Regions from separate parts of the Homo sapiens genome. Here regions 1, 2, 3, 4, 6 and 7 are each linked to region 5. Evidence: fine-mapped expression QTL. A gene starts in region 5. Each other region holds a variant in brackets. All regions are shown on one strand. Distances are from middle to middle.

Region 1 (4,065 bases), 150 kb before region 5:
TGTTCTCACGATAGTGAGTGAGTTCTCGTGAGATCCGGTGGCACACCTCCCACCTCGCGCTCTTGCCCCCGCTCTCGCCGTGTGAGACACCTGCTCCCCCTTCACCTTCTGCCATGACTGGAAGCTTCCCGAGGCCTCCCCAGAAGCAGATGCCTCCATACTTCCTGTACGGCTTGCAGCACCGTGACCAATAAACCTCGTTTATTTTGAATTACCCAGTCTCAGGTGTTTCTTTATAGCAATGCAAGAACAGCCCAATGAGTAATCGCCAACTGAAACGGTGATTATGTCATGTGCATCCACATGTGGGCTGCTCTGTGGCTTTCAAGGAACATATTAAGCCCAGGCCAAACCACATGACTCGCAGGAAGTTCCACGGCATAAGATTCAAAAGAAGCAAAATGAGAGCGCCCAACACCACCCCCTAGAAGAATGATAAACACAGATCAGATGAGTGTGCGCAGATCAGGGATAAGACCCACACAGCCTGCTAATTGGATTACCTGTGGGATGGCAGGAGTGCTGTGGTAGGAAGAGAGACAGGAATACAAGGCCTTCCGTAGCAGCAAGTATATGTCTATTATGCATCAATGTGCAACTATGTATACGGTGGGTGAGTGAGTGAAGAACAAAGGCGGAGCTTAGAAATCATCCCTTCACAGATTGCAAGAACAGTGTCGGCTGTGGAGGACGCCAAGGCCGAGAAAGAAAATAACTTGCCTTCATTCAAGACAATGTGCTGTGTGGGAAATGCATGTGGACAGGTGAAGGAGCGGCTCCGTCAGGCCGCAGCGGGCGTCCAGCAGTGACAGGCGGAGTGAGTTGTGGCTGGCCCCTGAGAGGCCCCTGACAGGTTTTGGGGCTCCAGCCTTTGTGTCTGGGAGGCTCTGGCACAGGTGAAGGGGAACTGAGGGTTACGTCACCTGTGACAGATGGTTCAGGGTCTCTCTGGGTGTGACGCAGAGTCCAAAGTGAACAGTTACAAACGTTCAAGCTTTGCTGTAGATATGAGTTTCAGAGTCACCGAGGTGCCCGGGAACGCCCTCGTCGGGCCTGGATCCCCGGAAGTGAGTTTCCCCATGGGTTATTGGTCAAACGGCATCAGAGTGTCTGGGAGATTTTGTTTTTCTGTGAGTATTTTCTCAAAAATAGTAGTTCCTTGTTCTATGAGTGTCTGAAAATATTAGGTGTGTTTCTGCAGACAGGGCTGGATTCCTGGGGCTGTAGCTCTAGCCACCCTGAAATTTGGCATTCTTAGTTTTCGTTTTCAAATAAGCTTGAATCCCACATTTGGAACAATCACCCAAATTTAAGTCTCAGTTTTGTTCCTTCTGGGGACAGTCAGTGCCCTGCTGGTATCACAACACAGCCAGTAACGGCTGCAGCGCTGACCTGCGTGTCCTGGGTCCCGAGAGACACCGTGCCGGGCTTCTGGGGGCTGGGCCGGGGGGCTGGGTCAGGAGACAGGAGCCGCACTGGGGACCGAAACCGGTGCCTTGACCTGGAATTGATCGAGGAACGACTCCTGCACCTGTTCTTTCCTCTTTACATTGTTTCTTTTATGTTATCCGAATAATTTCCAACCTGTAAAGAATCATCTGTCTTGGCCCTGACTGCCCATAGGATAAAATTCCAGAGGTTGGTAAGAGGTCTGAGTCTTTCCTAGACACCGTGGGGATCCTTTTTCTGACCACCGACCAGACAGATGTCCACTTAGGACCTGCATGGGGGCCGTGGCTCCCAGCCCCGCATGGCCCACCCCGTGGGTGCCTCCCTCGCCCCAGGATGGGCCAGAGTCCTCAGCCCCTTGCTGAGAGCCACCCTCCCTGCCTGGTGCGCATGGCGTGCCCAGGGTAGGACGGAGGATTCTCTGGGATGCCTGACAAAGCCTAAGGGTGATTGTTGTTGTGTCTTCCTGGAGCTTGGTTTTTGGACGTCATCGTCTCCAAGCTGCAGCCCGGGTCTGAACTGGGCGCGATAGACCCAGGCTGGCTGTTCGTGTGGCGTTGGAGCCAGTTCCCATTTCTGC[G/A]TTAGGTTTCATTCCTGGCCTTTTCCCTGCTTTGAGGGGCTGCACAGAGTACCTGAGGGCCCTTGCGTGCACCCCTAAATCTTCTCTTTAGCTGTGTTCCTTCTGAAGGAAAAGGTTTCACTCTTCTTTTCAGCTCTGGAGATTTCTTGTTTTGGTTCCAAACCCTCGAGGTGCTGGAGCAGCTAGTTTGCCTTGATCTTGTCACTTCTGTGTTTTCTCTTCCCCAGAGCAGCCATTGCTCTGGGAGCCTGAGGACCAGCCTCAGCCCATGGCCCCTGCTGGGGCGGCCACCTCGGCGTCCGGTGGTGACTGTGCAGGACACATGTTTCCGGCCCCCCTCCTCTGAGGCTCCAGGAGCAAAGTGCTGTCCCCAAAGCCATGCCGGCAGCAGGAGCGTCTCCATGCCGGGCACGCACCGAAGGTGTGTCCAGGGTGTAGGGACCCAGGAAGGTTGTCTTGTGGTGGACTCTGATGACCACAGCCCAGGCGCTTTTGTGGCTCGTGGAATCGCTTCCTCAGAAAGGAGGCTGGGTGCTGCCGCGGCCTTTTCCTTCCTAGAGCCCTTTCTCATGCAGCGTTGGCTGGGCCTGCTCAGCACTGTGGCAGCTGTCATGGCAGCCAGTGGTCCTTGCTTTGGGCAGCAGTGAGATGCACAGGCCTGGAGTCAGGGCTGGGGCCGACCTGCCGGAGACCCCCTTCCTAGCTGCGTCCCTCACTCGGGGCCGACCGGCCGGAGACCCCCTTCCTAGCTGCGTCCCCCTGTGTGGAGGCCCCACTGGTTCTCCTGAATGCTGTGCCCTCTGCTTCCATGTCAGAACATTTCCCTCCAATGGGCAGGGGCGAACCCACCTGCACCCCCGGGCCCAGGTGCTCCCAGATGCAGAGCAAGCCCACCCAGCGGGGGAAGGCACGGCTCGGGGGCAGGAAGGAGGTGGTGGAGCTGGGGGTGGTTCGGCCCCAAGCACCCTGAGCCTCTGGTTGCCTACTTCATTCTGGCCCAGGCTGCATGGGGGTTTCCAAGGCTGGGGTCAGACTGATGGACAGGGCCATTAGCAGAGATTCAGGAAGAGGAACCGGTTCTGGGAAAACCATCTGCATGCAGAGCCCAGGGGACTGGCCATGCCGGACTCTCCTCCGAGGTCCGGGTGGGATGCTCCAACAGGGCTGGTTTTCCCATGGGCTTTGGGATGAGGGCTTTTCTGGGGAATTCCAGATCCCCCCCAGTCTGTAGGTGCCAAGCTCAGCCTTCTCAGGAAGCCTTGCTGGCCGGGGGTGGGGCTGACCGCGGAGGGGCCCTGAAGGCTGGAGCAGCCTGGGGAAGCTCTGCCGCCGTGGCCGGCTGCGCAGCCTGGAAGGGACGCCTGGCCTCCCAGATCCTCTCCCTCCCCGACAACTAATGTCCAAGACTGACTGCTGAGATTCTGGGATTTGCGGTGGGCCCCACGGACTGGAATCTTCATTAGTTTAGGGGCGGTGGCTGGAGGTAGGAGCCTCTGGGCCCTGTGTGCCCCTCAGCCAGTCACCTGCAGTGACAGTGGGAGCAGGCTCCTGCACTCGGCCCACAAACCTGCTAGCCCGGCTGCATGGTGCGAGGCAGGAGAGAGATTCCGAGAAGCTCCTTCCTGAGCGTGTGGCGGGGGGCCTGTGTATGCTCACAGCTGTAAACAACTAGTATCTCATTCACTGTACAGGGCTAGCGCAATGGGCCATAAACTCACACGGCCATGGTGCCGCACTCAGGGACTGGTCTGGCCGCCCGCGTCCTCAGGGCTACAGAGGAGTGAAGCGTTCAAAGTCTTTCTCTGGGGAAGCCGAAGGTCAAAGGTCGAGCTGTGCCTGAGAGACAGAGGTTCAGGCTGAGGGAGGAGTCCGCATCCTTATGTTCCTCGGAGGTCTCCTCTTGTGACATGCTTGCACACATGCACATGTATGCACACCCATGACCCTGGGACCGTTTGGGGCAGGGTTGCACGGCTTGATGTGCAGTGTTGGGTGGAGGTAAGGGAGGCTCCGGTGGGCTTCTGTTGGCTTTTCCT
Region 2 (4,065 bases), 100 kb before region 5:
TGTTTCAATGCTTTATTAACAGTTGGAAACAAAACCAGTGCCTTGGAGGTGATGGCATCAGAAGCCTGAGGCAGGGAAATGGGCTTGCATTTTGTCCCCCCACTTTTTTTTTTATTAAATGCATCATAGCAAAAGTAGATTAAAAAGAAAGAGTCTCAGCCCCAGATGACAGTGAGCAAGGAGAAGGAGGTAAAGACGGGGCCATCGGGCGGGGAGGGAGGAACCTGGTGTGTTTTGGGGCCAGGGGACTGGGCATCATCGGGCAGGGAGGGAGGAACCCGGTGCCTTGGTGCCAGTGCGGGGGAACTGGGCATCGTTGGGCAGGGAGGGAGGGAGGGATGAATCCGGTGCGTTGGTGCCAGTGTGGGGGGACTGGGCATTGTCGGGCAGGGAGGAAGGATGAATCCGGTGCATTGGTGCCAGTGCGGTGGGACTGGGCATCGTCGGGCAGGGAGGGAGGGATGAATCCGGTGCGTTGGTGCCAGTGTGGGGGGACTGGGCATCATTGAGTGGGGAGGGAGGAAGGGATGAATCCGGTGTGTTGGTGCCAGTGTGGGGGGACTGGGCATCGTCAGGCAGGGACGGAGGGATGAATTGGGTGCGTTGGTGCCAGTGCGGTAGGACTGGGCATCGTCAGGCAGGGATGGAGGAACCTGGTGCGTTGGTGCCAGTGCGGTGGGACTGGGCATCATCAGGCAGGGAGGGATGAATCTGGTGTGTTGGCGCCAGCGCAGGGGGATCCGGCCTTTTCATGTCGTACGGCGTCTGTCTTACAGGGACTCCACAGAAAGCTTGTGTGTTTCCGTCCTGCAGTGTCCGCCTTCGGAAGACCCAGCTGTTACTGCTGTGATTTGAGGCCCTGTGGGAACAAATCTCAGTTCCGTATTATCCACAAACACCATCTCCCACAGGACTTTCAAAAGCTTTTTTCTCTCTCCTTTTAAGAAACACAGGAACTTACAGCTAAATATCTACACTCATTTGTTGCAAAAAACAAAGAAATCCCAGAAAACAAAACAAAAACAAAAAACTCCCAAAGACAAAAACAAAAAACCCAGTAAAATCCCAAGGGAAATATGGTCAGCGTCAGGTCACACTGTAAAGGTGTCAGAAGGAAAGTCAGCAAAGTCAAGCTGTGTTTGAGGGTAAGGACTTCTATCTGCTGCAGAAGCCGTCAGTTCCAAAACAGGGCCGGGAGGCTGGAGGGGCCCCTGTCCGACTTGCTGGGTGTGCTGCGGCTGCCCTCAAATTCAGGGGCAGCCGCGGCCACCAGGAAGGCTGCGTCTGCTCCGGGAACCTCAACTGCCATCCCCCAGGCTCCCTTCCCTCTCTGGAGAAGCTCGCCGGCCATGTTCTCCCCTTCGTGCCTGTGAACTCATCACACACCCTGCCTGCGTGTGCCGCGTGTGTGTGCGTGTGCTGCCTGCGTGTGCTGCGTGTGTGTGCGGTGCTGCCTGCGTGCGTGTGCTGCGTGTGTGCGCTGCGTGTGTGCGTGTGCTGCGTGTGGGATCTTCACATCGGTGGGAGCCTTCGGAAAGCCTGTCTT[C/T]TGACATGGGATGACCGACCTGAGGCCTGGCCTGGAGCCAGGTGCCTCGTAGCAGCCTAGCTGTGTTCTCCCATGCAGCGGGTGAAGAAGGCGCATCCCGGGAGAGTCGCCGTGTTGAGGTGTTCTGAGGGTCCAGTGCCTATCAGGAAATACTCATTTTTTCCCACCAACCGATTATCATTGATGCTTCCTTAATGATTCCCAAAATAAAAATTTCCAGAACCTTTTGAATTAGAGGCGTCTCAGAGCCGGAGGAGCCTTCGAGAGCTGCTGTGTCTCTTGCTTTTGCAGTTCAGGACTTTGAGGCCCAGAGAGGTAGACTGTGTGTTGGGGGCACTGGCGGGAAACGGCCGCAAGCAGTGAGACCCTGAGAGCTGCTCCGTGTGGGCAGCAGCGGGTGCTGCTGGGAACGCCTGCCGGCGCCTCCACACGCAGAGATACGCGGCGCCGACACGGGAGGCTTCGTCCTGCCGGCGCCTCCACACCCAGAGATACGCGGCGCCGACACGGGAGGCTTCGTCCTGCCGGCGCCTCCACACGCAGAGATACGCGGCGCGGACACGGGAGGCTTCGTCCTGCCGGCGCCTCCACACGTAGAGATACGCGGCGCCGACACGGGAGGCTTCGTCCTGCCGGCGCCTCCACACGCAGAGATACGCGGCGCGGACACGGGAGGCTTCGTCCTGCCGGCGCCTCCACACCCAGAGATACGCGGCGCCGACACGGGCGGCTTCGTCCTGCCGGCGCCTCCACACGCAGAGATACGCGGTGCGGACACGGGAGGCTTCGTCCTGCCGGCGCCTCCACACGCAGAGATACGCGGTGCGGACACGGGAGGCTTCGTCCTGCCGGCGCCTCCACACGCAGAGATACGCGGCGCGGACACGGGAGGCTTCGTCCTGCCGGCGCCTCCACACCCAGAGATACGCGGCGCCGACACGGGAGGCTTCGTCCTGCCGGTGCCTCCACACGCAGAGATACGCGGCGCGGACACGGGAGGCGTTGTCCAGACCCTGGGGCTTCTGCTCCTTCTCACAGTGCCTCAGGTTAATATTGTGGATGAAAAGTCTTTAAAAAGCTTCAAACTGAGTTTATCTCTGCCCTTTGGAGTTGCTGGCATGCCAGTTTGCAAACTGGCATCTTTGAAATGAGCCGACTGCCCCATGTGAGCCATGACGTGTGCGCTTGCTGAGTTGACGCGAAACATTCAGCGCGGAGTGGCGGAAGTGGGGTTCTGAGAAACTTCTACTCTGCTCCCGTTTTTGATTTTGTTTGTTTCAACAAGAATAAGGTGATGTGGCCCTGAGTGGCGCCAGCAGGAGCCTTGGTGTGGTCTCAGCGTGGTGCCTGTGCCTGCATCTGTCCTCTCATCCTGCGTCGTGGAGACGCCACTGCCAGGCGTCTTTAGAGCCAAATGACGGAGGCAGAAAAGGCCCTGGGGAGGCGCGAGTGTGTTTGAGGCGTTTTTTTTACAGAATGGACTTAAACTGGGCATCCGCTGTCTGGATTGACAGCTGTCACTCATCCCTTCCTGCTCACTCCCTATTCTCCAGTAAACTGGGCCGTTAGGCTTGCCGCTGGGGCATGCTCCGAGCTTCCAGCAGAGAAGTCGCAGCTGGGGTTCAGTTATGACCTCCAGACTGACCCCTGGCAAACAAGGAGTCCGGGATCACGGGCGTTTTCTGCAGGGCCAGCCAGGAACTGGCCCCACTTCCTTCAAGCACGTCCAGGTGGCGTCTCTGTGGGCTTGAAGGAGGGAGAGGTGGACCTAGCTTAGGTCCCTCTGGGACGCTTCTCTTTACTGGCAATTCGAACAGCTGGAGTTTACAGTTAACTCACGTCCACAAGAAAGAGCTCTTTCCTTTAATTCTGGCTCCAACTTTGACCTAATATAAAATAAAATTCAAAATAAAAAGGGACTCAGTGGATAAATGAATAAGCAAGACGAGGTCCCTTTGCATCATGGAAGTTATTCAACCTTAAAATAGAAGGGAATCCAGTCAGCGGCCACAGCAGGGGCCACCCTGGAGGACATTTGCTGAGTAGAGTGAGCCGGGCTGAAAGGACACGTCCTGTGGATCCCGCCGACGTGAGGCCCCAGAGTAGTCAGATCCACAGAGACAGAAAGTGGGGTGAGGGCCACTGGGAGACAGCAGGAGGGGGATGGGAGTGAGTGTTGAATGGGGACCGAGTCTCCGTTTGGGAAGACGAGAGTGTTCCAGAGAGGACGGTGGTGATGGTTGCACAACTCGGTGAACGTGGTTAATGCCACAGAACTGTGCACGCGAGCAGGTCAGAGATGGAAAATTGTATGTTAAAAATTAAAATAAAGGGACTAATGCAGGTAAACAAGACACAGCAATCCTGAGTCCCAGGCTGGCAGGTCCCTGCTTGCGGGACTTGCATTAGAGGGTGGCGTGCATGTCCCTCGCCTTTCGGCAGTACACATGGGGTGCACATCCACATTTTGACTTGTGGTGGCAAAAAAACCAAGGCTTTATAGAGAGCTAGTGAATGCA
Region 3 (4,065 bases), 21 kb before region 5:
GGTCTTCCTGAGGCCCTGCCCCGGGGGAGCGGGAGGTCAGGGTGAAGGGGGACTCCCCAGGCCGTGGCCATCCTGCTTCTCTAGGAGGAGGCTGGGAGCAAGCCCCTCCCTGAAAGCTTCGTCTGGCCCAGGACACCCACCTTGATTCCACATGACGCAGCAGCCCGTTGTCTTCCCGGCCCCCCATCAGCCGGGTCCCCATCAGCCGGGCCCCCCATCAGCCGGGCCCCCCATCAGCCGGGCCCCCCCATCAGCCGGGCCCCCCCATCAGCCGGGTCCCCCATCAGCCGGGCCTCCCCATCAGCCGGGCCTCCCCATCAGCCGGGTCCCCCATCAGCCGGGCCCCCCATTAGCCGGGCCCCCCCATTAGCCGGGCCCCCCATCAGCCGGGTCCCCCATCAGCCGGGCCTCCCCATCAGCCGGGCCTCCCCATCAGCCGGGCCCCCCGTCAGCCGGGCCCCCCGTCAGCCGGGCCCCCCGTCAGCCGGACCCCCATCAGCCGGACCCCCCGTCAGCCGGGCCCCCCGTCAGCCGGGCCCCCGTCAGCCGGGCCCCCGTCAGCCGGGCCCCCCATCAGCTGGGTCCTCCGTCAGCCAGCCCCCCATCAGCCGGGCCCCCATCAGCTGGGTCCTCCGTCAGCTGGGCCCCCCGTCAGCTGGGCCCCCTGTCAGGCCCCCCATCAGCAGGGCCCCCCATCAGCCGGGCCTCTGGCAGTTGCACAGAGGCTTGGGTCATATCTGCCGGTCCTAAGGAGGAGGCCTGGGTGCCTGGCGGTCCCCCTGGTTATGCTCCGTGAGATGCACCTCGCTGTTGTTGTGGCCACGTGATGCTTTCGCATAAGGGCCCTGCAGGGGATGAGCTGTGCTCCATGCTGGGCCACCGTTTAATCCTCCCACAGCCTCAGAGGTGGGACCTTAGATCCTGCTTCGTGGACACAGAGGCTGAAGCTCAGGAAGGGGGCCTGGCTGCTGCTCAGGCATGCGTGGCCACCGCCCCAGAATCCCCCAGGAGAGGCCAGCGCTCTCCCATGTCCTCGCATCCCAGGACAGCGGGAAGCATTGCAGCCTGACGAGGAGAGAAAACCTGGCCTGTCCCCACCCGCAGCCGACCGTGCAGGGAACACAGTCCCAGGAGGCTTCCTTCCAGGCCATTTATCTCCATGAGAACACGTCTGCCGAGTTTGCTCACTGCCTTGGCAGATCTGTGGGTCCCAAGAGGCTCCAGCCGCTGAGGCCGGACAGCTCGGGAGCCTCCCCTATCCCGCACACCCACAGCCAGCCTCAGTTCTCCCAGCTCGGGGATGCTTTTTTAGTTTTATGTCTTTGAGATGGGATCTCGTTCTGTCACCCGGGCTGGAGTACAGTGGTGCAATCTCAGCTCACTGCAGCCTCGACCTCCTAGGCTCAAGCCATCCTCCCACCTCAGCCTCCCAGGTACCTGGGACTACAGGTGTGCTCCACCATTCCAGGCTAATTGTTTTAAGGTTTTTTGTAGAAACGGGGTTTCACCACGTTGCCCAGACTGGTCTCAAACTTCTGGGCTCAAGCAGTCCTCCCACTTCACTCTCCCAAGTAGCTGGGATTACAGGCTGATGCCACCAGCCCAGCTCATTAAATTTTGGTTTTTTGTAGAGACGGGGTCTCACTATGTTGCCAGGTCTCACTGTGAGGGTCTCTCCATGTTGCCCAGGGTGGTGTTGCTCAAACTCCTGGGCTCAAGCGATCCTTCTTGCCTCGGCCTCCCAGAGTGCTGGGATTACCCACATGAACTCCCTGACTGGCCAGGGATGTGTTTTAATGTTGGTCACTTCATCTTCTTTCTTCTTTTTTTTATGATAAATGCATTTCATTATTTATTTAGATGTTTAAGCTCTCACTGCAAAGTTTTTACAAGCTGTTGAAGACTGACAAATTATTTCTCACACAGA[A/G]CTATAACCACCCATCCCCAGACAGCATAAATATATGGTTGAACATGAATAAGTGACACAATTTTATCAATTACCTAATAAAACAAATGACCAAGTATCCAAATACTGAGCTACTCAGCTCAAAAGGCATATACAGTATTGACATCTGATCAGTTCATTAGCAGAAACCCACTTCTTTTTTTACAAGAGAAGTTGGGAAGAAAAGGGAAAAACTGTCATACTTCAAACAAAAATAAGTTGGAAACAATTTCTAATCAGTATGGAAAAAATTACAGACGTTTCAGAAATTTTATGATTTAAGAATTGTTTTAGCTATAATAAGCATTTCTGCCTTTTAAAAAGTATTTACTAAATTAAAGAGCATATTTCACACGTTCTGCACAAGGCAGCATTTTGCTAAAAATAACAGCCCCGCGCGTTCCTATCAGGCCCTCCCTGTTGGTTGCACCTGCGTGCAAATGTGAAATTAACCGTGAGGCCACTTTGTCTGAAGCCATCAAAGACGTGCTTCTGTACAATGTAGATTTTCTTTTCTTTTCTTTTTTTTTTTTTTTTTTTTTTTTTAGGCAGAGTCTCGCTCTGTTGCCCAGGCTGAAGTGCAGTGGTGTGATTTCGGCTCACTGCAACCTCCACCTTCCAGGTTCAAGCGATTCTCCTGCCTCAGCCTCCCAGGCAGCTGGGATTATAGGTGTGCACCACCACACCTGGCTAATTTTTGTATTTTTAATAGAGACAGGGTCTCACCATGTTGGCCAGGATGGTCTTGAACTCCTGACTTCAGATGATCCACCTGCCTCGGCCTCCCAAAAGTGTGGGGACTACAGGTGTGAGCCACCACACCCGGCTATGGAGGTTTTTCATAATAACACAAAGTAAGATTTATAAAAAGACATGAGGCCGGGCTCAGTGGCTCACGCCTGTAATCCTAGCACTTTGGGAGGTCGAGGTGGGTGGATCACCTGAGCTCAGGAGTTCAAGACCAGCCTGGCCAACATGGTGAAACCCCATCTCTACTAAAAATACAAAAATTAGCCAGGCGTGGTGGTGTGTGCCTATAATCCCAGCTACTCAGGAGGCTGAGGCAAGAGAATCGCTTAAACCCAGAAAGCGTAGGTTTCAGTGAGCTGAGATCGTGCCACCGCGCTCCAGCCTGACGTGTGCTGGTGTGAACATAGGAGAAGCAGACATAGAATGAGCAGGGAAACAAGCACACAGCCTCCTTCTGTGTTTGAAATGACTGAAGGAATAAACCACATGAGGTCTGGAGTGTTCATAGTTCCTGGGAATTGAGTTCTGTATGATACTAAAAATGTACAAGTATTACATATTACACTGGGGATTTTAGCACCTAGTCTTCCTAAATTTCTTATGTATTGATAAGATTCTGGAGTAGGAATAGATTTAAACAAGACATAACTCAGTACTGCGTGATTTCAGGAAAGGTCAGTTAGTACAAATGATAAGCACATTTTAAATACTAAACAGCAAGGATCTTTTGCCACGTGTCCAAATAGGCCAATGGTAACTGAAGCAGAGGTTGCTAGTTAGTTCCGGTTTGCAGCCTGGTGACACTGCTGTCCGTGCTGCTGTGGACGCTGTCAGCCTTGCTCAGCAAGCCAACACACCGGCTGTGCACAGACGGACAGCAAATCGATCCTGTCGAATTTCACTTCCAACACAATCGTTGTCTTTCTTCAGTGACATTTTAAAAATGAATGTCATTATTAAAAGCATCGTTTAAATAAGTGTTTTTATCTTTCTGTTCTTGCTGTGTCTGGACAGCGGCCTCCCAGCCAACATCCAGCTGGACATTGATGGGGACCGTGAGACGGAGCGTATCTACTCCCTCTTCAACTTGTACATGAGCAAGCTGGAGAAGATGCAGGGTGAGTCTGCCCGGCACACAGATCTGTGCAGCGAGGGGATGGCTGGCGAGGCCCCGGCCTCAGGAGCATGCTGTGGGGTGAAAACCTGTGGTCTGAGCCTCTGGTGTAGTGTGGGCTACATGTAGTTGTCTTTGTAGCACGGATGGATGCGAAAAGCTTTTTGCAGGGTAGGCAGCTATCTGGGGGACAATTACCTGTATAATAGGTTCTATAGATAATTTTTAGATGGAATTTAACTTGTAACCTCTGTAC
Region 4 (4,065 bases), 57 kb before region 5:
TCTGTGTTGGTAGATCTGTTTGGTGAGGGTCTCGGTTTTTGAAAAACAATTTAGGGACATATGTTAAGATGCTATTTTTAACTTGTATAGGGAATAAATATCTCCTGACTAATTTTTTGGCTATTATTTTATTATTTATTTTGCTTGTTAGGTGATTTACCACTCAAGGCTGGCTAGGTGTCTGATATATTTTTGAAGGAACTCGAAGGTTTTTTAATCATTTAGGTGGGTGGGGCCTAAGCGAGGTCCCTGCTCCATCCGAGGTTCTGCACCAGGCCACGTGCTGCAGGGCTGCTGTCGGTTCTGCCGTCCACGTCTTAGCGCCAGGCATTCTGCCCGTCTGTCCCACCCTCCCACAGGCAGGGACAAGCCCTGGGGAACACGCCTTGGCCTTCCCGGAGCCTCAGGAGCTAGAGCTAAGGGCCGGGCCAGGCAGAGCCCCTGAAGCATGGATGAGTCTGTGTTTATCCCATCCATTCATTGCCATTCAGGCTGGAGCAAATACAGGGACAGCGGCACACACAGGTAGGCACACATAGCCGCACACACACACAGGTGGACACAGTCACACATACACACAGGCGGTGCACACACAGGCAGACATGCACACACAGTCGCATGTACAGACAGGCGGACAAACACACATACACAGGTGGACACACAGCCACGCGCACAGACAGGCAGACACAGTCGCGCACACACACAGAAGGACATGCACACAGCCACACACTACAGACAGGTAGACACACACAGAGTTGCATGCACATACAGGCAGATGCACACACAGCTGCTTGCACACAGACAGACATGCACACATAGTCGCACACACACACAGAAGGACACACACAGCCAAACACACAGACAGGCAGATGCACATACAGACAGGCAGACACCGACAGGCAGACACACACAGTTTCATGCAAACACAGGCAGACACACAGCCGTGTGCACACAGACGGACACGCACACACAATCGCACGCCCACACAGACACATAGCCACATGCACAGACAGGCAGACACACACAGCTGCATGCACACACAGGCGAACATGCACACAGGTGGACACATACAAGCAGATACACACAATCACATGCACACACAGGTAGACACACAGTCGCATGCACACAGGTGGACACAGCCACACACAGATGGACACACAGTTGCACGCACACAGGCAGACACACAGCCGCACACACAGGCGGACACACAGCTACACAGGCAGACACGCACACAGCAGCACAGATGGACACACATAGTCGCATGCATGCATAGGCAGACACACATAGACACACACAGTTGCACGCACACAGGTAGACACACAGCCGCACACACAGGAGGACACACAGCTGCACACACACAGCCAGATGCACAGACACAGGCGGACACACATACAGGTGGACATGCACACACAGCAGCATGCTCACATACACAGCTGCACACACAAACCGCACGCACACAGGCAGACACACAGTTGTACGCACAGACAGGTGGACACACACCCACAGCCGTGCACACAGACAGACAGGTGGATGGACACAGCAGCACACACAGACAGACTGATCTAGAGAGACAGGTGGACCCGCAGGGCAGCCTTGCTGTCTGCTCTGCTAGAAGCCCCCGTGAGCCTTGCTGTCTGTGTGAGTCTTGCCCTCTGTGTGAGTCTTGCTCTCTGTGTGAGTCTTGCCCTCTGTGTGAGTCTTGCCCTCTGTGTGAGCCTTGCCCTCTGTGTGAGCCTTGCCCTCTGTGTGAGCCTTGCCCTCTGTGTGAGTCTTGCTCTCTGCGTGAGTCTTGCC[TCCTGTGTGAGTCTTGCCC/C]TCTGTGTGAGCCTTGCCCTCTGTGTGAGCTCTCCGAGGTTCCTGCGGGCCTCCATCCGGCCTCGCCCGAGGGGAGGTAAAGGCAGTGGCCCCTGCTTGGGAGACAGCTGTGCTTCCCCTCTGGTTTGTCCCGACGGACACACGAGCAGCCTGCAGCATCAGAGCCTTTGGGGGTCTGCTTCACTGAATGACCGTCTCCTACACGGTTGGACCCCTCACTTCTGAGGCAGCGACCTGCTCTCAGCAGAGCCAGGAGCCTGGGCAGCCACATGGGGCTGAGCAGTCAGGCAAGCAGCTCTCCTGGAGAAAGGCCACAGCTGGGACCCTGCGTCCCGGGGGTGGAGTGGAGGGGCTGGACGTGCCCATTGGCCAGGGCAGGGCGGGGCCGCCTGCTCCCTTTGCCCTCTAGGCTTTCCCTGGGCGCGCGGCCCTAGTGGCCTGTGGGAGCAGCGCCACAGCCTCTGACACCCCATCCTTGTGCCTTGCAGGGCAAAGTGCACCTGGAGCTGCGGCTGAGCGAGGTCATCACAGACACTGGGGTCGTCTGCCACAAGCTCGCCACACGGTAAGACACGTCCTCACTAGAGACCGAGCGCACAGCGAGTGGCATGTCTGGCTCCCGAGGAGCACACAGGGGTTTTCACACCAACGCACAAGAATTTCCAGAGCCGGTGGCTGCCCAGGATGACACTGTTTAGAGGTCCTGGCCCACCAGGATGATGCTGTTTTAGGGGTCCTGGCCCACCAGGATGACGCCATTTTAGAGGTCCTGGCCCCCAGGATGACGCCGTTTTAGAGGTCCTGGCCCACCAGGATGATGCTGTTTTAGAGGTCCTGGCCCCCAGGATGACGCCGTTTTAGAGGTCCTGGCCCCCAGGATGACGCCGTTTTAGAGGTCCTGGCCCCCAGGATGACGCCGTTTTAGAGGTCCTGGCCCCCAGGATGATGCCGTTTTAGAGGTCCTGGCCCCCAGGATGACGTCGTTTTAGAGGTCCTGGCCCCAGGATGATGCCGTTTTAGAGGTCCTGGCCCCAGGATGATGCCGTTTTAGAGGTCCTGGCCCCCAGGATGATGCCGTTTTAGAGGTCCTGGCCCCAGGATGATGCCGTTTTAGAGGTCCTGGCCCCAGGATGATGCCGTTTTAGAGGTCCTGGCCCCCAGGATGACGCCGTTTTAGAGGTCCTGGCCCACCAGGATGAAGCTGTTTTAGAGGTCCTGGCCCCCAGGATGACGTCGTTTTAGAGGTCCTGGCCCCAGGATGATGCCGTTTTAGAGGTCCTGGCCCCCAGGATGATGCCGTTTTAGAGGTCCTGGCCCCAGGATGATGCCGTTTTAGAGGTCCTGGCCTCCAGGATGATGCCGTTTTAGAGGTCCTGGCCCCAGGATGATGCCGTTTTAGAGGTCCTGGCCCCAGGATGATGCCGTTTTAGAGGTCCTGGCCCCAGGATGATGCCGTTTTAGAGGTCCTGGCCCCAGGATGACACTGTTTTAGAGGTCCTGGCCCCAGGATGATGCCGTTTTAGAGGTCCTGGCCCCCAGGATGATGCCGTTTTAGAGGTCCTGGCCCCAGGATGACGCCGTTTTAGAGGTCCTGGCCCCAGGATGACACTGTTTTAGAGGTCCTGGCCCCAGGATGATGCCGTTTTAGAGGTCCTGGCCCCAGGATGATGCCGTTTTAGAGGTCCTGGCCCCAGGATGACACTGTTTTAGAGGTCCTGGCCCCAGGATGATGCTGTTTTAGAGGTCCTGGCCCCCAGGATGATGCCGTTTTAGAGGTTGCCCCAGGATGATGCTGTTTTAGAAGTTCTGGCCCCCTTCCAGGATGACGCTGTTTTAGAGGTTCTGGGCCCCCAGGATGACGCTGTTTTAGAGGTCCTGGCTCCCAGATGACACTGTTTTAGGGGTCCTGGCTCCCAGATGACGCTGTTTTAGGGGTCCTGGCCCCCAGGATGATGCTGTTTTAGAGGTCTTAGCTCCCAGATGATGCTGTTTTAGGGGCCCTGGCCCCCAGGATGACACTGTTTTAGGGGTCCTGGCCCCCAGGATGACGCTGTTTTAGAGATCCTGGCTCCCAGATGACACTGTTTTAGGGGTCCTGGCTCCCAGATGATGCTGTTTTAGGGGTCCTGGCCCCCAGGATGACACTGTTTTAGGGGTCCTGCCCCCCGCCCCCCCGATGACGCTGCTTTAGATGTGCTGTCACACACTGCTGGCGTCCACGCTAAAGCACATGCTCACCTTAGAGGTGTTGTT
Region 5 (4,059 bases):
TGTGTGAGGCCAAGGCCCCCACCCTGCACCCACCACTTGCCCAGAGAGCTGAGGCCTCCTGGGTGCTGAGAGGCTGTGGGCTCTTCAAAAGAAGAGATCAGAAGGAGGGGAGCCTGCAGCCTGGGGGTCACACCTGCTTCCCCCTGGCTGAGGAGCCCCGGGTGCGGGAAGCGGGTCCTGGGGGCGGGGGGGTGCGCCGGCTCGCGAGGTGCCTGTCAAGGGGCAGAAGGGGCTGCCCAAATAAGCCACACTGTTGTAAGGGTTGTTTTGAGCTGAAACAGCCATCCACAAGGATAAGAACGCTGCTTTCTTCTGGCTCTGGAGAGCGTCTTCCCCGTGGGGTGTTACCTCCTCTTTCAGGAAGGAAAGGCCATTCCCGGCCACACAGACCGTGCTGGAGTGCGTGTGCCTTTCTCCAGCTCATCTGCTGATTTTAATTATCAGGCCCGACCAAAAAACCCCAAGAGGTAAAATGTTGCCTCCCCACCCACCGTGGTCTGGAGGCTGGAGGAGACAGCGTGCCGGGGATTTTCTGTTCGGCTCAGTACAGGCTGAACTCTGTCCCGGCAAATCCTCATGCTGGAGCTGTGACCCTGTGACCCTCAGGACCTCAGGGTGTGGCTGCACTTGGGCGTGGAGCTGTAGAGATTGTCAAGGTAAAGCGAGGCCCTGACCCAGTGTGACCAGCGTCCTCATGAGAAGGGGAGACGAGGACGCAGCACACAGGACCACCACGTGAGGACACGGAATACGTCATCTTCGCGCCAAGGAGAGAGGCCTCGGGTAACCAGCGCTGCGAGACACCTTGCCCCCAGCACCGGAGGGAATGAGCTCCCGCTGTTTAAGCCGCCTGCCTGGGAGTGCCAGCAAACCCACGCTGACCTGTGCAGTTCACACCGTCGGCCCGGAAAGCCCTCGCCGGAGCCCCGGCCACATCAGGGTTTCGTCCTGGCGCCGTGTGGGTGGGGAGAGGCGCTGGGCCGGCAGCATTTGCACCCCACCACTGCCTGCAGGGGCTGCCTTTGTCTTCCTGAGTTGATCTGTGTCCCATTTGCCCTGATAGGGAGAGAAAGATTCAAATACCCTGTCACAGAGGGAGACCGGCGTCTCATCTGCAGGCCCTGCTAGGGCTGGTGCCAGTTCCCCGCCCTCCCTGGTGGAGAGACCAGAGATGTGAAAACGCAGAACCCGCCCCAGCCCCGGCCTGCGGGAAAGAAGAAGGGAAGACGCAGAACCCGCCCCAGCCCCGGCCTGCGGGAAAGAAGAAGGGAAGACGCAGAACCCGCCCCAACCCCGGCCTGCGGGAAAGAAGAAGGGAAGACGCAGAACCCGCCCCAGCCCCGGCCTGCGGGAAAGAAGAAGGGAAGACGCAGAACCCGCCCCAACCCCGGCCTGCGGGAAAGAAGAAGGGAAGACGCAGAACCCGCCCCAGCCCCGGCCTGCGGGAAAGAAGAAGGGAAGACGCAGAACCCGCCCCAGCCCCGGCCTGCAGGAAAGCCACGCTGTGCTGCCAGGGATCGGCTGATCTTTGGCCTCTGACCTTACAGTGATGTCACAGCAGACCCATGGCAACGCACTCCCAGCACCTCCTGACTACTCCCTGCGGGACGGCTGGGTGTGAGGGTGGCAGCCTTGTGCTCAAGCCGAGGCTGGGCTGGAGGATGGAGAAGGACACGGGGACCACACACAGGAGGCACCGGCCCGGCCTCAGGGCCCTGCCCTCAGGAGTGGCCCTTGGGCACCTCAAGGCGGCCAGTGAGGCCTCTGAACTTCAGCGAAGCAGGAGTCTGGGAGGCCTGCAGCCCGAGGGGGACCCTCCCAGCCGCCCTAGGAAGCCTCACAAGGAGCTGGGTAGGGGCTGTGGGGCCGCGGGGAGCGGGTGGACGGCGCGGCTGTCCCACCAGGCACTGAACCCAAAGTACCTGCGTCAGAGCCCAGCCCAGTTAGAAAGTTCTAGGAAGTTCCCAAGGTTAGGGATGCGCCGAGACAGCCCCAGGAGGTCCAACGACGTGTGTCCAAGGCGGGGCACGGCCTGACGTCATACATTGCAGGGGGGCGTGGGGCATCAATCAGCACCTGTGAGGGGGTACGTCGGTTCTGTCCGGAAAGGGACAGCCTGAAGCAGGAGGGGCTTCCAGGTCGTAGGTAGAGGAGACACAGGGCTGCATTCTTTGGGTCTCGATCAGCCTTTCACTGAACACACAATTTACACGTGAGGGGACTAGAGGGAGAGTCACTTGTATCCTCGTCCGGCTCCGTGACTGCGGTTTTTCATGAGCAGCCCAGAGGGAGCTGTCGGACACACTTGTCTCAGGTGAGCAGAGGGAGGACCGTGATCTCTGTCCCTGTCCTGCGCCTGTTGACGGTCAGCTGTCCACGTGCATTCCCAGCGTGAAACTCCACAAAACTGCTTAGGGCAGAGATCTTAAGGCTCACAAGGAATTTCCTCGTGGGTGAATGATGAGGGAGGCCTGTGGCCGTTTATCTCTGCAGCTCTTGTTTAGGAAGAGGATGGGAGGCAGGTTTGTCTGACACATTCCCAGCCTTACTCCTCCCCTTAGCTCAGTGATTCAGGGCCCAAGATTCATTTTCCTTCCACCGGCAGCAGGGACCGGGCCGGGCCTCCTGCCTCCCGCTGCCCTGTGCTCGGAACGCTAAGGGTGGAAGTGGGGAGCACTCCAGGTCCACACCCGTAACCCACCCAGGGCTGCTGGGAAGGCCTTGCGCTGCTGGGGCGGAGCTGTGGGGGCTCCAGCCGGGCACAGCCAAGGGCGGGAGGGGTGAGAGGAGGGCAGGCCTGGGACCCTCATGGGCCTCCGAAGCCAGCCGATGCCTGAAGGGAGGATCATAGCCAGGCGCCCCGTTTGCAAGAAGGCCCTGGTGAGGGCCTGGGTCCCTGCCAGGAGCTCTGGGCCTCACCCACCAGCAAGGAACCTGCGTAGCTGGTGTTTGACACGGTTGGCTTCTAAACCGCGAAACGTGTAGGCTGCCCCTGTGTCGGTCCACACTCGCCACTCTGAGATGTTTCCAGGTGTGCCGAACGGACGGTGGTGTGGGCCTGGGGATGGTGCTGCAGTCACCTCCTCACACCTTGAATACTGGCCCAGAGCACAGGGCTGAGGGGCTGACACGGAGCTGCGAGCTGGCGCTCCCCTCCCCTCCCGCGGCCTCGGCAGCTCCGCCTCCCCTTCGCAAAGGTGTCCACGGGGCCGTGGAAGTGAGACAGCCCGGTAGGACTCGGGGTTTGCTTGCTCAAGCCCTGGGGACAATTTTAAGAGGTAATGATGTAAAAATATGTGTTCTTCTCTGAGTTTAAAAATCCAAATATGTGCTATTTGGGGGGCGTGAGTAGTTAGGAGGCTGCACCCTACCTCCCTCCCCACGGGGTTCCCTCAAGACGTGCAAAGTTCTCAAAAGAATAAGTTACGCCAAGGCTGCTTAGCGGGAATTTAAGTTGGGGCGGGGAGTGGATCTCCAATAATGCCGCCCGATGCCACCACAGTGCGGACTTAGAGGCCGGGGTCGGATGGAGGGAGGGATTGAGCCCCATTGTGGCTGACATTTCCCTCAACACCTGCTGGATTTGCCCAAAACTGCACGATGGGAGGTGCCGCAGCAGGGAGGCCGGGCTTCTGTGTGGCCGCTTGTCCTGTCTGGCAAAGATGTCCACCCTGCACAGCCTCCCCCAGGCACCAGCACCCTCAGGGTTCGAGACCACGGCCCAGGAGCGCATCCTCCCTGGAGCTTTGTGGCTGCCCCCAGACAACTGAGATTCTGCCGGAGAAGAGCAGGAGGCATTTCCAGCCCTGTGACCCGAGGAGAAGGGCCGGGCCTTGCTGACCACTGGTAGAGTCCGACGTGGCCTTGGTTTCTGCAGGGACTCAGCTCCTCACCCCTCGCAGACTTGGTGGGCTCCATGACATGCCCAGTGCCACGTGCACCCACAGGTGCCCGGATGTGTGAGACGCCGCGTCCACTTCACAGGGAGGCCTCCGGGATGCGGGAGACGTGGGGTGGCCGACTTCACGGGGGCACCAGTGGGGTGTGTCTGGGCCTGGG
Region 6 (4,065 bases), 34 kb after region 5:
GTGTCTCCATCTGACAGGCAGAGAAACAGCAGCAGCCCAGCCTGGGAAACGATGTCAACAGCTCCTGTTTCCAGCACGTTCCTGGGTCTCAGACGCCCAGCCTCACACACAGAGTCCCAGAGACCAGGGTATCGAATGCCCAGCCTCACACATGGAGTCCCAGAGGAGATCAGGGTCTCGAACGCTCAGCCTCACACATGGAGTCCCAGAGACCAGGATCTCGAACGCTCAGCCTCACACATGGAGTCCCAGAGACCAGGGTCTCGAACGCTCAGCCTCACACATGGAGTCCCAGAGACCAGGGTCTCGAACGCTCAGCCTCACACACGGAGTCCCAGAGGAGACCAGGATCTCGAACGCTCAGCCTCACACATGGAGTCCCAGAGACCAGGGTCTCGAACGCTCAGCCTCACACATGGAGTCCCAGAGACCAGGGTCTCGAACGCTCAGCCTCACACACGGAGTCCCAGAGGAGACCAGGATCTCGAACGCTCAGCCTCACACATGGAGTCCCAGAGACCAGGGTCTCGAACGCTCAGCCTCACACACGGAGTCCCAGAGGAGACCAGGATCTCGAACGCTCAGCCTCACACATGGAGTCCCAGAGACCAGGGTCTCGAACGCTCAGCCTCACACATGGAGTCCCAGAGACCAGGGTCTCGAACGCTCAGCCTCACACACGGAGTCCCAGAGGAGACCAGGATCTCGAACGCTCAGCCTCACACATGGAGTCCCAGAGACCAGGGTCTCGAACGCTCAGCCTCACACATGGAGTCCCAGAGACCAGGGTCTCGAACGCTCAGCCTCACACACGGAGTCCCAGAGGAGACCAGGATCTCGAACGCTCAGCCTCACACATGGAGTCCCAGAGACCAGGGTCTCGAACGCTCAGCCTCACACATGGAGTCCCAGAGACCAGGGTCTCGAACGCTCAGCCTCACACACGGAGTCCCAGAGGAGACCAGGATCTCGAACGCTCAGCCTCACACATGGAGTCCCAGAGACCAGGGTCTCGAACGCTCAGCCTCACACACGGAGTCCCAGAGGAGACCAGGATCTCGAACGCTCAGCCTCACACATGGAGTCCCAGAGACCAGGGTCTCGAACGCTCAGCCTCACACATGGAGTCCCAGAGACCAGGGTCTCGAACGCTCAGCCTCACACATGGAGTCCCAGAGACCAGGGTCTCGAATGCCCAGCCTCACACATGGAGTCCTAGAGGAGACCAGGGTCCCAGACGCCCATCCTCACGCAGAGCCCCATAGGAAACCAGCACCTGCGTCTTCTGTCTGGGTGGCACAGGGAAAGTGCTTCCCCTGGGAATACTCGGCTGGCATCCACCCCGCCAGTGTGTGCTGCAGGCTGGCTCATCTGGGGGTGGGGGGCTTGGCGGCAGCACCGCAGGGTCTAGGGGAGCCCACCTGGCTCTGGCCTCCTGCTCTTCGCTTCCGGGGAAACGGCCCAGGCCCCTGCTGCACACTCTTCCTTCCCCTCTTCAGTAGTAAGAGGAGCCAAATGCGGCTGACGGTGCATCTGAGGCCGAGGCGCAGCCCCCGCCCCTGGGGTGGACTTTGGCCGCATGGGCAGGGCCAGGCAGGCAGGTAGCCTCTTGGGGCCTCTGAGGTGGCCCGAATGCCTCCCCTGATCACGGCTGCCACCCGGGCATCCTGGTCCCCCTGCGTCAGAGCCCACACACATGACAGACAGGAGGCTCTGGCTCAGATGAGGCCAGCGGCACTTCCTTTCATCCTGCCTGGCACCCGGTTTCTTGATGACCCAGGCCAGTGTTTTTCACGCTGAATCGTGTTTGACTTAGAAGCACATGGGATGATCCCTTTGGCCTTCCCAGCACCTCCTGAGAAGTATTGTCATCAGACCTGTGAGCATGAGATGGCGCTGGGCCCAGAGAGGTCAGTGCCCTGGCCCAGGATACACAGCGCACAGGAGGTCACTGGGAGCCTGAGTGACAACATCTCCAGGGCTGGACAGCCTCCCTGTCAGGGGTGAGAAACGGGTCTGTGCCCATTTCACGGCTAAGAACCTGGAGCAGGTCCCCCTTCAGCCCAAAGCCCAGGAGGAGGCGGCTGCTTATTGCAAAAGGTGTGAACCAGGCTGAGTGGTGCCGCCCTCCCCATCCACGTGGTCCCCATCTTTCCCATCCACGTGGTCTCTGTCCTCCCCATCAACGTGGTCCCCGTTCCCCCCGTCCAGGTGGCCCCCATCTTCCCAGTTGGGTGATCCCCGTGTTCCCCGTTGGGTGGTCTGCGTCCTCCCCATCGGGTGGTCTCTGTCCTCCCCATCGGGTGGTCTGCATCCTCCCCATCGGGTGGTCTCTGTCCTCCCCATCGGGTGGTCCCCTTCTGGCTCTGGGTTGCCTGCATCTTGCAGCTCCACACTCCGGAACATGTGGCTTCTGGCATCACCGGGGCGGGGGGAAGGGGCCAGCTGCAGCCCTTGGCTGGAACGTGTCAGGCAGCCAAGCCTATGTGCAAAGGGCCGGGACCTGAAGGAGTGAGAAG[C/AAGC]CGGACGCTGTTGTCCCTGACCCTGAGCTGAGCAAGTTCCACTGAGGCCACAGAGATGAGTCCGACCTGAATTCTGCCCTCCCGGAGTTTACAACAGGGTGAAAGGCACCTGGCGGGTCTGGAATGCCAGCTTGGAAGGGATCGTGGGAGGAGCTGGCTGAGGAAACGTGGGCCTGGGGTGGGGGTGGCTGGGTTCCCAGGGAGGCCGCAGGTGCTGTGGTGTGCACAGCAGGGCCTGAGCCTCCTGGGGCCAGGAGGCTTCCTGGGCGTGAGGCCCAAGCTGAGTTTTCCATAGGGATTGAGAGTGAGTGAAGGCTGTTTGGAAGGACGTGCTGGGCAGTGGGAAGTTTGAGCAAAACCTGGAGACAGGAAAGAGCTGTGTGTTGAGAGAAGCTACAGCTGGTGCAGTGTTTCTGGAATGGAAAGTTCACGGCGGACGTGTGGAAGGGAGCGACTCCCAGTGGTGGGCACAGCAAGGGCCCCTCCCAAAGACGTCGGAGGCTGAACCCCCAGGACGCTTGAACAGGGCAACCTTGCAGGGGGAACTAGGTTAGGAATCCCAAGTCGGGAGATAGCCTTGGATTATTCGGTGGGTGCTCCTGGAGTTTAGGGAGGATGGAGAGGCTGCTGGACCCAGCGTAAGGTCTGGGCTCCTTAGAGGCAGGTGGGCGGGTCAAAGAGAGAGCAATTTGAAGATGCTGGGTTTGAAGATGGGCCGTGGGCCAAGGCTGCTGCCGTCTCTGGAGGCTGAGAAAAGAAAGCAGTGGCTTCTCCACCAGGCTCCTGCCAGCCCTGCCTTCAGCACCCTGAGGCCCTTTTCACACTTTCCCCTCCAGGACTGTAAGATAATACATTTGAGCTGTTGGAAGCCACTAGGTTTGTGGTAATCTGTTAAAGCAGCAGATAGGAACCTCATAGACTCACTATTGAGAAAAGAAAAGCACTTTTATCTGAGGAGCAAGTCCTTTTAATTATTGGGTCCAGAGAGGCGTTCAGTTGAGGCCGCAACCACATCCCACTCCCCCTTTGAGCTGCATGTTCATCTTGTGAAAGGAAAATCATTCTCGGGACCCCAGATCGCTGAGCCTAAGAGAAAAGTCCAGCTGGGAACTGTGCCAGGCAAACCTGCCTCCCATTCTATTCCTGAGTAAGGGAACTACAAAGATTTTAAAAAGCTACACGCCTGCCTCACGATTTGCCCACAAAGAAATTCCTTGTGGACAAAGCACAGACAGAACTCAAAGTCACCCCACTGCTCCCGTGAGACAAACGCACACAGCTGATCACTTCCTCTGCCCTCATTTCACTGAGCCAGACTCAGGCATGAGTGACCATTCCTGTAAATTGTGCATTCCGTAAAAGGCTAATCAGAAACTCAGGAGTGCAACCGTTTGTCTCTTATCTACCTACGACCTGGAAGCCTCCTCCCTGCTTCCATCTGTCCCGCCTTTCCGGACCGAACCAGCGTTCATCCGATGTATGTTGATGTCTCATGTCTCCCTAAAATATGTAAAACCAAACTCTGCGCCGACCACCTCAGGCATGT
Region 7 (4,065 bases), 160 kb before region 5:
TAATGAAAGCAGCCGCGATCGTTGTCACAGTCAAGGTGCCAGGGATTTGTGGGCTGAGGGGCATTCATCAGCACCCACGGCTTCTGCGGGCCTGGGGGCGGGGGCGTGAGCGTCTCCCTCTGCTCTCCTGCCCTGCCCTGCACAACCTGGTGAATTTCCTGTCCCACCCGCTGCCCCACCCCTCCCTGAAGCAGGGAGGTTGGCAACTGAGCTTGTGAGGCTCAAGGGTACCTAGGATGGGCCACTCGGAGGGGAGGCAGCTCTCCTCGGCCATCACAGCCAGAAAGTGGGCTTTGAGTGTTCCGTGCGGTGCTGCCACCGTGTCTACACCCACCTCCACCGTGTCTACACCCACCACCGTGTCTACACCCACCTCCACCGTGTCTACACTCACCGCCACCGTGTCTACACCCACCGCCACCGTGTCTACACCCACCACCGTGTCTACACCCACCTCCACCGTGTCTACACCCACCACCCTGTCTACACCCACCTCCACCATGTCTACACCCACCGCCGTGTCTACACCCACCGCCACTGTGTCTACACCCACCACCGTGTCTACACCCACCTCCACCGTGTCTACACCCACCATCGTGTCTACACCCACCACCGTGTCTACACCCACCGCCACCGTGTCTACACCCACCACCGTGTCTACACCCACCTCCACCGTGTCTACACCCACCTCCACCGTGTCTACACCCACCACCCTGTCTACACCCACCTCCACCATGTCTACACCCACCGCCGTGTCTACACCCACCACCGTGTCTACACCCACCTCTGCCGTGTCTACACTCACCTCCGCCGTGTCTACACCCACCACCATGTCTAAAACCACCTCCACTGTGTCTACACCCACCGCCACCGTGTCTACACCCACCACCACCGTGTCTACACCCACCACCATGTCTACACCCACCTCCACCGTGTCTACACCCACCGCCGTGTCTACACCCACCTCCACCGTGTCTACACCCACCTCCGCCATGTCTACACCCACCACCACCGTGTCTACACCCAACTCCACCTTGTCTACACCCACCACCCTGTCTACATCCACCTCCACCGTGTCTACACCCACCACCACCGTGTCTACACCCACCACCGTGTCTACACCCACCACCACCGTGTCTACACCCACCACCACCGTGTCTACACCCAACTCCACCTTGTCTACACCCACCACCCTGTCTACATCCACCTCCACCGTGTCTACACCCACCACCACCGTGTCTACACCCACCACCGTGTCTACACCCACCGCCACCGTGTCTACACCCACCGCCACCGTGTCTACACCCACCACCGTGTCTACACCCACCTCCACCGTGTCTAAACCCACCTCCATGTCTACACCCACCTCCACCGTGTCTACACCCACCGCCGTGTCTAAACCCACCTCCACCGTGTCTACACCCACCACCACTGTGTCTACACCCACCACCGTGTCTACACCCACCTCCGCCGTGTCTACACCCACCACCGCTGTGTCTACACCCACCACCGTGTCTACACCCACCTCCGCCGTGTCTACACCCACCTCCGCCGTGTCTACACCCACCACCACCGTGTCTACACCCACCACCGCCGTGTCTACACCCACCACCGTGTCTAAACCCACCACCGTGTCTACACCCACCTCCACCGCGTCTACACCCACCGCCACCGTGTCTACACCCACCGCCGTGTCTACACCCACCTCCACCGTGTCTACACCCACCACCACTGTGTCTACACCCACCACCGTGTCTAAACCCACCACCGTGTCTACACCCACCTCCACCGCGTCTACACCCACCGCCACCGTGTCTACACCCACCACCGTGTCTACACCCACCTCCACCGTGTCTACACCCACCACCGTGTCTACACCCACCACCGTGTCTAAACCCACCTCCACCGTGTCTACACCCACCGCCACCGTGTCTACACCCACCACCGTGTCTACACCCACCTCCACCGTGTCTACACCCACCACCGTGTCTACACCCACCACCGTGTCTAAACCCACCTCCACCGTGTCTACACCCACCACCACCGTGTCTACACCCACCACCGTGTCTACACCCACCTCCACCGTGTCTACACCCACCGCCGTGTCTACACCCACCACCGTGTCTACACCCACCTCCACCGTGTCTACACCCACCTCCACCATGTCTACACCCACCACCGTGTCTACACCCACTTCCACCGTGTCTACACCCACCTCCACCGTGTCTACACCCACCGCCACCGTGTCTACACCCACTGCTGTCTGCTTC[A/G]TGACTCGGGGGTCTAGGCTGCTTCTTTCCTCTCTCTCTGCATTTCAAGAAGATGAGAGCGAGACCATGATGCTCCGTGGTAAGGCCCACCTGAGCCTCCGACTGTAGTTGATAAACCCAGCACAGCATTGCGTCTCCTGTCCATCAACAACACAGACCACCAGGCCTCGGCATCCACAGGAATCTTGGAGTGGACCTGTCTGCTTCTCTCAGTTGTGTGGCTCAACTAATGTTTGAGAAAGACTCTTCGGTGGCTATTTATTCATCTCTCTAGATTCTCCAAATGTGTTCTTTCGCAGCTCATCAGGTCACTAGAAAGCTACTTTCTTTGACTTCTAAGTGCCTACATAAATTTTATGCGAGAATTATGATTTAATGTTATATTTTTACTACATTCATTCAACAAACATTCATTGAGCATTTACCATGTTCTAGGCCCTGTAGTGAGTGTCATTTGAGATTAAAAACATCCTCCCCTAACTTGTCCAATATTCCTTTTGAAAAGAATTCCCTAAAAAATTTCTTGTATTGCCTTGTGGGCTAAAGTACTGTCTTTCCTGAAAGTCTGACATGCTTCCTTTTATCAGATAATGTGACTTGTGTAAGATTCATATTTCCATATTTCCCTTTTCACCTTGGCTATCCGGAAGCTCAGTGTGTAGCTTTACGTTCAGCTGTTCTCACCTTACATGTGTCAACAAATCCACTAAAAAAATTTCTTTTAAAAGGAAAGAGACAGGCCGGGCGCGGTGGCTCACGCCTGTAACCCCAGTACTTTGGGAGGCTGAGGCGGGCGGATCACCTGAAGTCAGGAGTTCGAGACCATCCTCAACATGGAGAAACCCTGTCTCTACTAAAAATACAAAATTAGCCAGGCATAGTGGTGCATGCCTGTAATCCCAGCTACTCGGGAGGCTGAGGCAGGAGAATTGCTTGAACCTGGGATGCGGAGGTTGTGGTGAGCGCCGAGATTGCGCCATTGCACTCCAGCCTGGGCAACAAGAGCGAAACTCCATCTCAAAAAAAAAAAAAAAAAGGGGAAAGAGACATTATTCCAGCAAGCAGTTTGCAAACTGGGAGATGCTGCCTTTGGAACAAAACAAAGGTGCATTCCAGAGAAGAAACATGCGATTGTCTTCCACAAGGGAATTCCTGCCCAGGATCTCATTCTGGCCTTTATGCAGATAAGGGAGGCAGACTTGCTTCATTCTGTTTGGTAGAGCCTGGTAGCAGTCTATTGGTTTGGTCCAGAGGGCAAATTGGGATTTTCTGGCCTTGGTTGATTCCAGCAGCATGAACAGACAGCTGTGAAATTTCCAGCACTTCCGGGAACGCAGAGCTGGCGTGTGACCTCTAGTGAGCAAAAGGTCGCGTGCCTCCATTTTGAATTCAGGCCCAGTGAGCCCCTTGGGATGCACCTGGCAGGATGGGCTCTTTCAGGTTCAGATACCTGATTCCACCGTTCTTCCTTCAGTTCTTACTTTGAACCCTCCAAAAATTATTCCGTTGTGTACTGGTCATTTATGTGGCTTCAAATCCTTTGAAAGTAGATTGTTCAGACATGATCTAATAATGCTGTTTTGGAAATGAATGAATGTCCACTTGTCAATGGGTTGATATGTGAACAGAAGAGTATATCCAAAGAGAGCAAAGTGTAACACCAAGGTCATTGAAAGAAGAAATTATAGAGATTTTCTATTGGGTCATCATCTGATCCTTTCTTCTCTCAGTATTTTATTTCCCAGCTCATATTATCACAGCTCTAAGAGACAACTTTCTAATTTAGAAAACGAAT

Direction of the effects. Positions count from the first base shown, and alleles are read on the strand shown. Sizes are in standard deviations (SD) of each study's normalised expression. Not every link is listed here.
As copies of A replace G in region 3, the expression in monocytes after Pam3CSK4 of the gene that starts at base 1,583 in region 5 goes down (large effect, 1.4 SD a copy in Quach 2016).

What was found. PIP is the estimated chance that this variant, and not a neighbour inherited with it, causes the effect.
Region 1: its variant is fine-mapped to the expression of C13orf46 in whole blood (INTERVAL, PIP 0.91).
Region 2: its variant is the best candidate, but not a certain one, in a credible set for the expression of C13orf46 in whole blood (INTERVAL, PIP 0.71).
Region 3: its variant is fine-mapped to the expression of C13orf46 in monocytes after Pam3CSK4 (Quach 2016, PIP 0.95).
Region 4: its variant is fine-mapped to the expression of C13orf46 in whole blood (INTERVAL, PIP 0.97).
Region 6: its variant is fine-mapped to the expression of C13orf46 in whole blood (TOPMed, PIP above 0.99).
Region 7: its variant is fine-mapped to the expression of C13orf46 in whole blood (TOPMed, PIP above 0.99).

The regions. Positions count from the first base shown.
Region 1 is chr13:114,121,436-114,125,500 of GRCh38, reverse strand. The region is part of intron 1 of RASA3 (RAS p21 protein activator 3); the gene reads left to right. It overlaps LOC107987192 (a long non-coding RNA gene), which reads left to right. Exons shown (of 2, transcript XR_001750050.2): 2 at 1-214. Among named protein-coding and RNA genes, the nearest start is that of RASA3, 9.2 kb to the left of the region's middle. The variant G/A (reference allele first, on the strand shown) is at 2,030.
Region 2 is chr13:114,073,927-114,077,991 of GRCh38, reverse strand. The region is part of intron 1 of RASA3 (RAS p21 protein activator 3); the gene reads left to right. Among named protein-coding and RNA genes, the nearest start is that of RASA3-IT1, 34 kb to the left of the region's middle. RefSeq lists an enhancer at 3,702-4,065. The variant C/T (reference allele first, on the strand shown) is at 1,547.
Region 3 is chr13:113,992,233-113,996,297 of GRCh38, reverse strand. RASA3 (RAS p21 protein activator 3) reads left to right here. Exons shown (of 24, transcript NM_007368.4): 22 at 3,710-3,813. Among named protein-coding and RNA genes, the nearest start is that of C13orf46, 20 kb to the right of the region's middle. The variant A/G (reference allele first, on the strand shown) is at 1,928.
Region 4 is chr13:114,028,123-114,032,187 of GRCh38, reverse strand. RASA3 (RAS p21 protein activator 3) reads left to right here. Exons shown (of 24, transcript NM_007368.4): 5 at 2,301-2,377. Among named protein-coding and RNA genes, the nearest start is that of C13orf46, 56 kb to the right of the region's middle. RefSeq lists an enhancer at 56-997. The variant TCCTGTGTGAGTCTTGCCC/C (reference allele first, on the strand shown) is at 1,795.
Region 5 is chr13:113,971,600-113,975,658 of GRCh38, reverse strand. It overlaps C13orf46 (chromosome 13 open reading frame 46), which reads left to right and starts at 1,583. Exons shown (of 7, transcript NM_001365455.2): 1 at 1,583-1,851. The coding sequence starts at 1,662.
Region 6 is chr13:113,937,614-113,941,678 of GRCh38, reverse strand. It overlaps a transcript of C13orf46 not described here. Among named protein-coding and RNA genes, the nearest start is that of SWINGN, 11 kb to the right of the region's middle. The variant C/AAGC (reference allele first, on the strand shown) is at 2,520.
Region 7 is chr13:114,136,348-114,140,412 of GRCh38, reverse strand. No RefSeq gene overlaps it. Among named protein-coding and RNA genes, the nearest start is that of RASA3, 5.8 kb to the right of the region's middle. The variant A/G (reference allele first, on the strand shown) is at 2,271.